Linked DNA regions of Homo sapiens: all the other regions are reported to be linked to region 3. The links are microRNA targets in miRTarBase. Many come from high-throughput screens and were not tested one by one. Region 3 holds a microRNA gene; each other region holds the end of a gene's coding sequence.
The links. The annotated mature microRNA hsa-miR-377-3p reads AUCACACAAAGGCAACUUUUGU and lies in region 3 at 1,145-1,166, opposite strand. An mRNA with a match to its seed (bases 2 to 7 or 8) in the 3' UTR can be bound and repressed. Matches are read on the target gene's strand: a 7mer-m8 pairs with bases 2 to 8, a 7mer-A1 pairs with bases 2 to 7 and ends in A, and an 8mer does both.

Region 1 (3,350 bases), not on the chromosome of region 3:
AAATTATACAATTCTGAGGCATTATTTAAGGTGCATACTGTATTTTTTGCTTGAAACCTGTCAGCATTTTATTTGTATGGCAATTAAATGACTCAGCCATTCATGTCTCATGCCAGTCTTTTTCAATTGTTATTTTTAACAAAGAAAATTATATATATATGTATATATATATTATATATATGTATATATGTATTATATATGTATATATATATAAACTTACAGCAAAAATGTTTAAAAATAGCAAATAGTTTGAGTATAGTTAAACCTAATAACTGTACTTTTGTTTCTATGCCTCTGAGACAAGATTACTAGACCCTTATTCAAAGTTTCTAAATATAGGAAATAGAACATTGGGCCATGCTAAAAAAATTGTTCAGATTTTCTTTTGAAAGAGAATAGTTATTTTTCCTCCTGACCTCTAATGAAGATGCTTTATTTGTCAAGGTGTTTTCCTTAGAAAATTGACCCAGTGTCAACTGTAAAGAAAACATAGAGGATCCTTGGATGATTGACCAACTTATCCAAACACAGGTTTAGTAAAGAGAGGATATAAAGATAAAATGTGAAATGACCTCTCTGAGTCACATTTGTTTTCATAATTTCCTAGCAAACATCCAACTTCACTGCTACCCTCAGCAATGTTTCTTGAAACATTTTTAAGACATTGATAGACACCAATAGCTGATCTTTAGAAAGCCATTCCCAGAAGAATATGTAAGGGGTTACAACTCATTTCAGGGAGTCTGCCTAGCTCTTGATATTACATGTCTTTGGCATACAATTGTGTACCTTTTATCATTGACAGTGAAGAAAATAATGCCATTTGTAACTTCTGAGATATACACACAATACTATCAACTAGCCGGTTAATAAAAGATAAGAAAAATAAAGAAAATAGAACATTTTTAGGTGTCTGGCAAGTATCCTCTAAATCAAGGTAAAGATAATAATTTAGTGGCAGTGTTCATATTTTCCTATGACTGTAAGATTTAGGTGCCTCACAAAATATTAATATTTAGCCTCTTATGAAAGGTTCGTTTTTCTTCTAACACTTTAGTAGCTGAATACAAAGAAAATACACAACAGCTGTTTATAAATGAAATAAAAAGTTTCCATTTTTTATCTGAGTTTCTCATTTATTTGCAGAGAACGAATAAAATAAAAATATCCTAGTGTTGTTTGCACCACAGCATACCAGTAAATCTTAAGGATTGTGTTTCAGTATGAAAAGGAAGAGCAGGAAGATTTCCTCATTCTGTCTTACCAGCAAAAGTCTAGCCTTCACACACACACACACACACACACACACACACACACACACACACACACACACACAGAGTCATCTATATGAACACGTACTTGAGTTTCTTAAACATATATGAAGCACCTTCCATTTCCCTTTATAATAAATCCCTTAGTTTTTGCTGTTCATTAAAAAACAAAAAGGAAGAGACAAGCTCAGGACATTCTGAAAACCAATGTCTTTAGGACACACTAAGGTGTCCTGAATTACTTTAACGGACACATTGTAAAGACACACTCTCCAATCCCTATTAGGAAAAGTTTAGTCAAGTTTGCTTACTATTTGGGTGCTTATACCAAAAAAGCATCATTTAGGACATTATTTAGGATAATATTATTTATGCAGGAATTGTACCACCTATTTCCAGATGGTATAACTTATTATCTGACAGGCATGTAGCAAATAGAACACAAAGCATAAATCTGTCAGGAGAAATCATACGAGAAAAAGAGCATTGTCTGGTTATCAGAATATCAGATCTCTCATTCTGGCCTTGCTAGGAAATAGATCTTTGATTCTAGAAAAGTCAACTAATTTCTATGGTTCTTACTTTTCTCCTTTATAATATACCCATTTAAATTCCAAAAAGGTATATGATAAATCACAATAATTTCAATCACATGGATTTTAATACAAAATGTATAAAATCAATTTCCAAAAATTTTCTGCATATACTGAAAATGTCTGTACGAATGAGCTAACTACTATAGGCCTTCCCTAATTTATTCTATTAAATGTGGGTACTCAATGTAACCTGAAAATATTGAGCTTAACTCTTCTTTTTTTTTTTCAAAAGGGAAACTTGAAAAAGACTGCTTCCCCCAGAAAATTTATCAACAATAGGTGCTCAATTAAATGTTTTTAAACAATGAACAATATCCCCTTTCATATAAATAATCAGGGGAGAGATATTTTTAAGTCTTTTTTTTCTTTTTCCATAGTGTCACCTACACAAAAAATTATGTAAAGACACCACTTCTATGAGGAGGTATTCATTGTAGATGTACAGAAGTCAACGGAAACTTAAGTTTACAGAAAAAATAAACCAGATTATCATTCCACCCAACTGTATATTCCCACAGATGCTTAATAAAAGCTATCTGATGATATAATGAATTATCAGTTCTTGAGGAAGTATATACAGTTGGTGACTATTTTTCAAAAATCATCATCCAACAAATTTTTTTCATTTAAAATCTTTCATATTACCCTTTCGACAATCAGTTGAAATTTTAAAACTAAGAACATTTAAAAATATAAATGAAAGTAGCATTAGCTATAGACTGATATTCAACTTCAGACGTTAAAATAAATACAAGTGTGTATTAAGAGTAAAATTATGTCAACAATGTATAAATGAAAACTGCCAATGTAATTAATGTTTCTTTTAACATATCCCATCCATTGCTTTCCCTCCAAAAGACAAAGGTAGCAAAAGACGAAGCAGGAAGAACTGCTTCAGAAACTGAACATACTGATTTAATTGGCTAAGAAGTCCAAATGCTAATACTCCTAATAATTAGCCATTCCTTTTGTGTTTTGGTGACATATATCCTCATACAATGTATATCAAATGGAATTTTTTGATTTACACCTGACATTTCAAAGTTTCCATTTTTGAATTCTCCTAGTCTTAAGTAAGTAGAACATTGTCTCCTTTGTTTGCTAGGCATAACGTTTTCCCCAACATCTAGGGCTCCATGATGCAAAATATCATTTTGCCGATCTTCTGTTCCAGTATTTACTTTAATTTTTTTTATTATAATTGGATTTTCAAATACAATCACAAAAACATCTCCTGTTGAAGGTGGTTTCCCCCAAAAGTACTCATCAACACTACTGTAAGCCTTGCTTGCTTCATAATTTTCAAACACATTCATGTTGGTGTACAGACTTGCAGGGGGGTTATCAGGAATGTCAAATGACTCCTCTTCAAAATCATCATCCTTCAGCTTATTCTCCGTCCCTTTGTATGATGAATAATAGCCCATGTGCTGAAAGAGAGATGGTTTAAAACGGATCACATTTTTCTGAGCCAACAGACCAC
Region 2 (3,000 bases), not on the chromosome of region 3:
CTGGCTGGCAGCCCAGCTGCACCAGGGCCGTGTGGACGTGGACGCCACCCAGGACCTGATCTGCCGCTTCAGCTCCCAGGAGGAGGTGTCCCTGAGCCACGTGCGTCCCGAGGACTGTGAGAAGGGGGGACTGAAGAACATCAACCTCATCATCATCCTCACCTTCATACTGGTCTCTGCCATCCTCCTCACCACGCTGGCCGCCTGCTGCTGCGTCCGCCGGCAGAAGTTTAACCAACAGTATAAAGCCTAAAGAAGCCGGGAGACACTCTAGGTCAGTGGGGGAGCCTGAGGTACAGAGAAGAGTGAGGACTGACTCAAGGTCACACAGTGATCCGGGATCCCAGAACTCTGGTCTCCAAATTACAGCCCAGGACACCTTTCTCTGCCGCCTGCTGCATCAGTGGGTGACCCCCTTCCCGGGCTGCACTTTGGGTCCAGCTGTGGAAGCCAGAAGTTGGGCGGTTTCAGGGACAGCCGAGAATAATGTTGACCTGTCAGATCAACAAATCTTCACTGAGCATGTATTTTGTGCCACACCCTGCTCTGGGCACTGGGAATGCTGGGAAATGAGATACATTCCCGCCCTCAAGAATCTCCCAGTCTGGTAGGAGAGAGTGCTGCAGAGCCACGTGGCCGCCACGCAGTGTGCTTAGGGCCTGAGGTGTGAAAGCCCAGGGCTCCAGAGCTCGGCAGGCCCCGCTGGTTTGGTGCGGTGAGTCCTGCCCCGGCTGTGCCAGGGTGAGGGAGGGCCAAGCCCAGGAGGATTTGTCTGAGACATTTCCAAGCAGACTGTTTGTCACGTCTTCTGAGAATGACTTTCAGTCTCTCTGAAAATGAAAAGCTTAGGACCAGAAGAGAGAATTGGAGCTGTACGAGTGTGTCTCGGATCTGGTGTTGTTAGGTGGGCCACGGCGGCTCCAGCAGGGTCTGGTTAAGGGGTCCAGCCCAGCACTGGACCATTCCGTCTCCTGCTCTGGACTTGCCCTCTCCCTTCCTGGCACTCTCATGTTGCATACCCTGACCCCAGTGCTGCTCTAAGCACCGTCCCTGCCCAGCCCCACTTCTCCATCGCAGCCCCACCTTGGCTGCTGAGCCAGGAGCTAAAACCTTAGATATCTGGTTCTGTTTTGCACCCAGCTTGGCAGATGTGGATTTGAATCCAAGCCTTGTGTCTGCCCCTATGTGACAGCTCTATATTTTATCCCCGTTTTATAAAAGAGGAAACTGAAGTTCTGAAAATCTCCTTCCAGGGCCCCAGCTAACTAATGCCATAGGTGAGATTCAAACCTTCATCCTTCTGTCTCCAGGGCCTGATCTTTACCACTGCAGGGGCTGCAGGCCGTTAAGTGGACAGGAAGTGGCCCCACATAGCCCGAGCAGGGTCTGGAAGCATCCTGTGCTGTGCACACCTGCTCTCTCCTCTCTCCCAGGCAGGCAGCTGCAGGCGCTCTCCTCCTTCTCTGCCTGTTTCCCTCCTCCCTTCCTTTCCACCCTGGTGTGGGTTCTCCTGTTCTCTCTGTGCTCTTGCATTCTCTCATTCCCTTTTCCTCTATTGAGCAGAGCCTGGAGTTTGAGACTATGGAATCCAACCTCCCCATTGCACAGATGGGGAAACTGAGGCTTAGGAAGAGAATGAAACTTGTGGAGAGCTTATACAGAGCCTCTGGGGGAAAAAAGAGCCCTTATTTGTGGGGTGAGATTGGGGGTTGGACCAGAGTGATGTCCTCTCTCAGCTATCACATCACAAGATAATGCTGGCTCCAAACTTCCTTTCTGTGCCTCATCATGCAAGGATCTTTTTTCCCTCTTACAAAAACAGGTAAAAAGCCTCACCCAGATGACCCCCATCCCTCATACCATGGAGTCATGAGCTGTCTGGGAAGAATGGACGTGCTGGGACCAACTCAAGACCTTGTTTTGCTGTCTTCATCATCTTACCTGTGCTTGGCCCACAGTCTGGCTCATGATGTGGGCTCAGTAATGTGCGAGAAAGTGAAAATGCCACTCTCTCCACCCCATTTTACAGAGGAGAACACCAAGGCCCAGAGGAAGTTAAGGGAGAGTCAATGGGCAGAGCCAGGGCTAGGCCCTGGTGGTGTGTGGAGCACCCAGGCAGACCCAGTCCTGGTTGGGATCACACCCACGGGTGCTACTGCACGTAACACTCCTCCTTAGGCCTGGAGGCCAAGGTGTGGGTCCCCACGCCTGATCTTTGAAAACACTACACAGGGCTGCTGTCACTTCCCAGGGCCCAGGCCTCAGCCCAGGCCTCGGGACCAACTCTTTGTATAACCTACCTGAATGTATTAAAAACTAATTTTGGAGAAGCAGTGTGGCTGCCAGCTTCCTCTTTGCAATCCGCTTCATTGCGTCCACTAGAACCCTGCCGCTCAATCCCATTACGGTCGTTCAATCATCATGGCAAATCCCTGGGGACACTGAGACTCTGGGCCAGCACCACCCTGGACCTTGAAGCCGCAGCCACTAGCATGGCCCCTGCTACACCTCTTGCCCCACACTCAACAGGCGACTGTGCTCCCCACCCCAGGGCTGAGAGGCTGAGGGCTTCCGTTTGTTTCCTTCCTGCTACAGCTACAGGCCCCCTCCCCTTCTCTGTGCTCAGCCCTCTGTGCCCTATCTCAGAGGCTGCACTGCCCCTCCTCCTTGGGGTCCCCAGCCCCGTCCTCTCTCCCTTACCCCGTCATGCTCTCTTCTGCCTCCAGCCTCTCCCTGTTTACGTCTTCCTCTCAGACTTCAGCTGGACTCAAGTCTTGTCCGTCTTAAAAATAGTGAGAAGCCCCTCAGCCACTTTCCCCTTCGTCCTCCCACTCTTCACAGGCCAGGTTCTTGGTAAAGTCACTTCCCTTCCCGCCCCTCCCGTTCTCAACCCGCCTGGAGCTGCCTTCAGCCCCTCCCAGCTCCATGCTGCCCTTGCTAACAGCGTCAAGGGTATCCTTTGCCAAACTCAGCACGCTTTTCAGACCTCCTCTCCCTAGG
Region 3 (3,350 bases):
CACGCCTGAAGTCAGCACACCTTTCCGGGAAGCTCTCGGGAAGGTTTGGGGCAGCAAGAAAAGATCAACTGCATAAAGGGGGAGACTGTATCCCATTTTTTGACCCTAGGTTCCTACTGACCCCACCAACTCCACTGTAAACACGCACAAATGTAACCACCTTCACAAGAATTGTACCAACACTGATATTCATAGAAACGTGTTTTTCAGAGCCAATGCCATTATACTAATCCAATTCCCTGTTTAGCTTTCCTGACCGCGCTGTTGAGCTGTTTTCATTTCTCTTATTTCCCTTGTTATTTTCCCCAAATCATTTTCATTAGGATCAATTTTTTCCATTTAAAAATCTGCATGAAGATTTGATTCCTCAATGTGTTCTTGTCTACATCAAATATCACTGTTTATCACCGCCGCCACCGTGAATTTCCTTCCATGGCTGCCACGTCGGCAGCTTGCTATTTCCCCAGGTCAAATGTCACAGCTGAAATGTTGTCAAGAAAATTGGATTCCTCTGCCAATTTGTAGTCAACTGAACACATTTAGCACTGTGCCGTTTCAGCTGTTTTTAGTTTTATTTTGTGTTGATTATTTTTATCAGTATTATTTAATACAAATGGGATGAGATACTGATAGCCTCTATTTGTTTCATAACCCAGGAGAAAATTGGGAACAATGTTTGGTTGGGGGATAGAAAGAGAAAGATAGAGACAAGGAAAGGTGCAGAAAGAAGCACAGTGCTTGTGAGCTAGACGGGGGTCTGGGGCTGCAGACTCGTCACAGACCCTGCCAAGTGTGAGCTCTTTGTGTATCCGCGAGGTCAAATACCTTCCGAAAAAAAAATGGTGGAGTCAAAATGTCTTTGGGATCAACACAGCCAAAATGGTGATGTAAAGAGACAGGGTCCAGGGTAAGAGCTAAAGCCGACGCGACACCAACGCCATCCTCCCCGGGCCGCGAGCCCCGCCCCCATCATGAATGAAGCTTGTGTTCTCTGAGCGACATCTGTTCTCATCCACCGCAGAGGACCGCAGAGGGCAGACCACCCACGTCTACCCCGTCCATTCTTGCTCACGGGAGGGGTGTAGATGCCCCTGAGCTTGCCACTGGGTCCCGGAAGCCATCCCAAGCAGGATTTGATACTCAAACAAAAGTTGCCTTTGTGTGATTCAACATAAATAAAGCGAATTCACCAAGGGCAACCTCTGCTCAAGGGTCAAACATCAGCACGGGCAAGAACACACCGAGATGCCTCTTCACCAAAGGCGGCATTGCCTGCGGGACCTCCCTGCTGACTCCAGCTGCAGGCTCGCTGGCTTGCTGGCTCGCTCTCTCCCCTCTTGCTCTCTCTCTCTCTCTACCTCCGAGAAGCCCCCCAGGCAGTGGTCAGAACATGGTTGGTCATGGACCAGCTTCTGTAGCCCTGGAGCAGGCAGTGGGGGCGAGGCTATGCACACACACATCACAGGTCAGCCCGAGCTAGAGTCAGCCCCTGGTCACCTACCCTAGAGGGGCTGGAACACCAAGGTCCACCTCCAGAGCCGGTATCTCCTCTGGAAGTCTCTGAAGCAGGATTTCACACAGAGAAGGGGGCTGCCAATGAACCATGTGACCGTGTTCAGTCCAGCCTACAGGGGTTTGAGGGAGGACCCGACCTGAAGGCTGGCGACTCCTCGTCCAGCGCAGCATCCTCAGAGGGTGGGTGGGGCTGCGTCACAGGGACAGCACAGGCTCAGGTGACTGTACTCCATGCACTCCATTCCAGGAGGCCTCAAAGAGAGTTCAACCAAGAAAACAGGTCACGCTGCCTATTCATTCATTCAGCATCACACCTACTGTGCACATCTGGCGACACAGCACCAGGCAAAACAGACAAGGACTCTGCCCTCAGGGAGCTTCCATTCTAGTGGCGAGAGGACAATGAGTGCAGATGACATAACATTCATATAATGACCATCCTCAGAAACAATGCTTATCCTACAGCCACGTGCCAGACGCTGTCTAGACACTTCACAAAGAGCACGTTTCCACTCCGCTGTTAACCCTGCTTTACAGAGGAAGAGACTGAGGCCCAGAGAGCTGATAGGTGAAGGGATTTTCCAAGGGCACACAGCTGGCAACATAAGGTAGTAATAAATGCTATTAACAATTCTCGTCTTGCAGTAGGAATAACCGAGTCGTGCCATGGAAATGTGTCTTTAAACAACATTAATTCTCACTGCTGAGGAAACCCCCTTCACCCCTTGCTTCCCAGAGGTCACCCAGAAGATAAGGTATTTGAGGGCGTAATGTGGATGTCTTCCATTCAGCCAGGAGTTCCTTTCCCTAAAGTGTGCCACACAGCCAAGATGATTTCACACCTAAAAAGGTTGACTAAATGTGGTTTATTCACTGACGAGTCTTCAAGGATGCGACTAGAAGACCACCATGTCAACTAAAACGTCAGCATCATTTCGGGGAATTCCTCCTAATGATGGCCGGGATATGAGCCAAGTGATGTAAGTCACACAGAGAGCACCTGTCATGCGGAGGTGATCCACTTCCTTACCCTGCGCAGGTGCCGGCTGGGCTTTCCCCTCGTGACGTTTCCCAAGAAGAATTGAGTACCGAAAGGAGATTGGCCATGTAATACTCATCATAAATAAAATGAACACACCATGGACAACCTCCATTCGAGTACCTGACTTGGGTGCTCGCTTCCAGCGCGTCCCAGCAGCAGGCCTGAGGACGGACGGGATACTGAGAGTCAGGAAGGTGGCAACACACCACCCACGAAATAAGCTCTGCGGTCCGGGCCGCACTCCATCCCTTACTTGCAATTAGCACCTCTTGCAGGAAGCCATTCAGGGAGGGAAGTGCCACAGCAGAGAGGTCTGCAGAGCACCATCTGTGATACATGAAGAGAGGGCAGCAGGGAAGACAGCAAGACGGTGTCTTGTCAAACATGCAGTGAGCCGATGAGGGAACTGCCGCCTCTTTCGAGGAAACTGCCATGGTAAGCAAGCAGGACGCCTGCAGGTGCACGACCCACCAAGAAGAGTGTGCACACTGTCAGCTTCGCCGTGCGTTCAGGCATTCAGACACCAGTTCTAGTTCCTAAACTCGGCACCACCCGAGGGTGCTTTAAGGCTAGATTTAATGCTTTCAAAAGAGTCCACTATGTAGGATTGGTCAAAAAATAAATCGAATGCATCATGGAAGACCTCTCCACCAGTACCACAGAGTAGCTCTGATAGGAAAAGCTCCACTTCTTCCCCAAAGGTGGCACCATCTCTAGAAACCTCCCCAAGGACGGGGCACACACAGGGTTAGGGCCAGGGCACACTGCTGGGTCGGCTATGGTCAATGGTCCC

Region 1: the mRNA of MGAT4C is a reported target of hsa-miR-377-3p. Seed matches in the 3' UTR shown: 8mer at 1,281-1,288.
Region 2: the mRNA of LRRC32 is a reported target of hsa-miR-377-3p. Seed matches in the 3' UTR shown: 7mer-A1 at 665-671.

Annotation. Positions count from the first base shown.
Region 1 is chr12:85,976,499-85,979,848 of GRCh38, forward strand. MGAT4C (MGAT4 family member C) reads right to left here. Exons shown (of 5, transcript NM_001351288.2): 5 at 1-3,350. The coding sequence ends at 2,791. Among named protein-coding and RNA genes, the nearest start is that of NTS, 100 kb to the left of the region's middle.
Region 2 is chr11:76,656,857-76,659,856 of GRCh38, reverse strand. It overlaps LRRC32 (leucine rich repeat containing 32), which reads left to right. Exons shown (of 3, transcript NM_001128922.2): 3 at 1-2,333. The coding sequence ends at 253. It overlaps LRRC32-AS1 (LRRC32 antisense RNA 1), which reads right to left and starts at 2,861. Exons shown (of 3, transcript NR_199061.1): 1 at 2,701-2,861; 2 at 163-249.
Region 3 is chr14:101,059,910-101,063,259 of GRCh38, reverse strand. MIR377 (microRNA 377) reads right to left here and starts at 1,210; the gene lies at 1,142-1,210. It overlaps MIR496 (microRNA 496), which reads right to left and starts at 2,687; the gene lies at 2,586-2,687.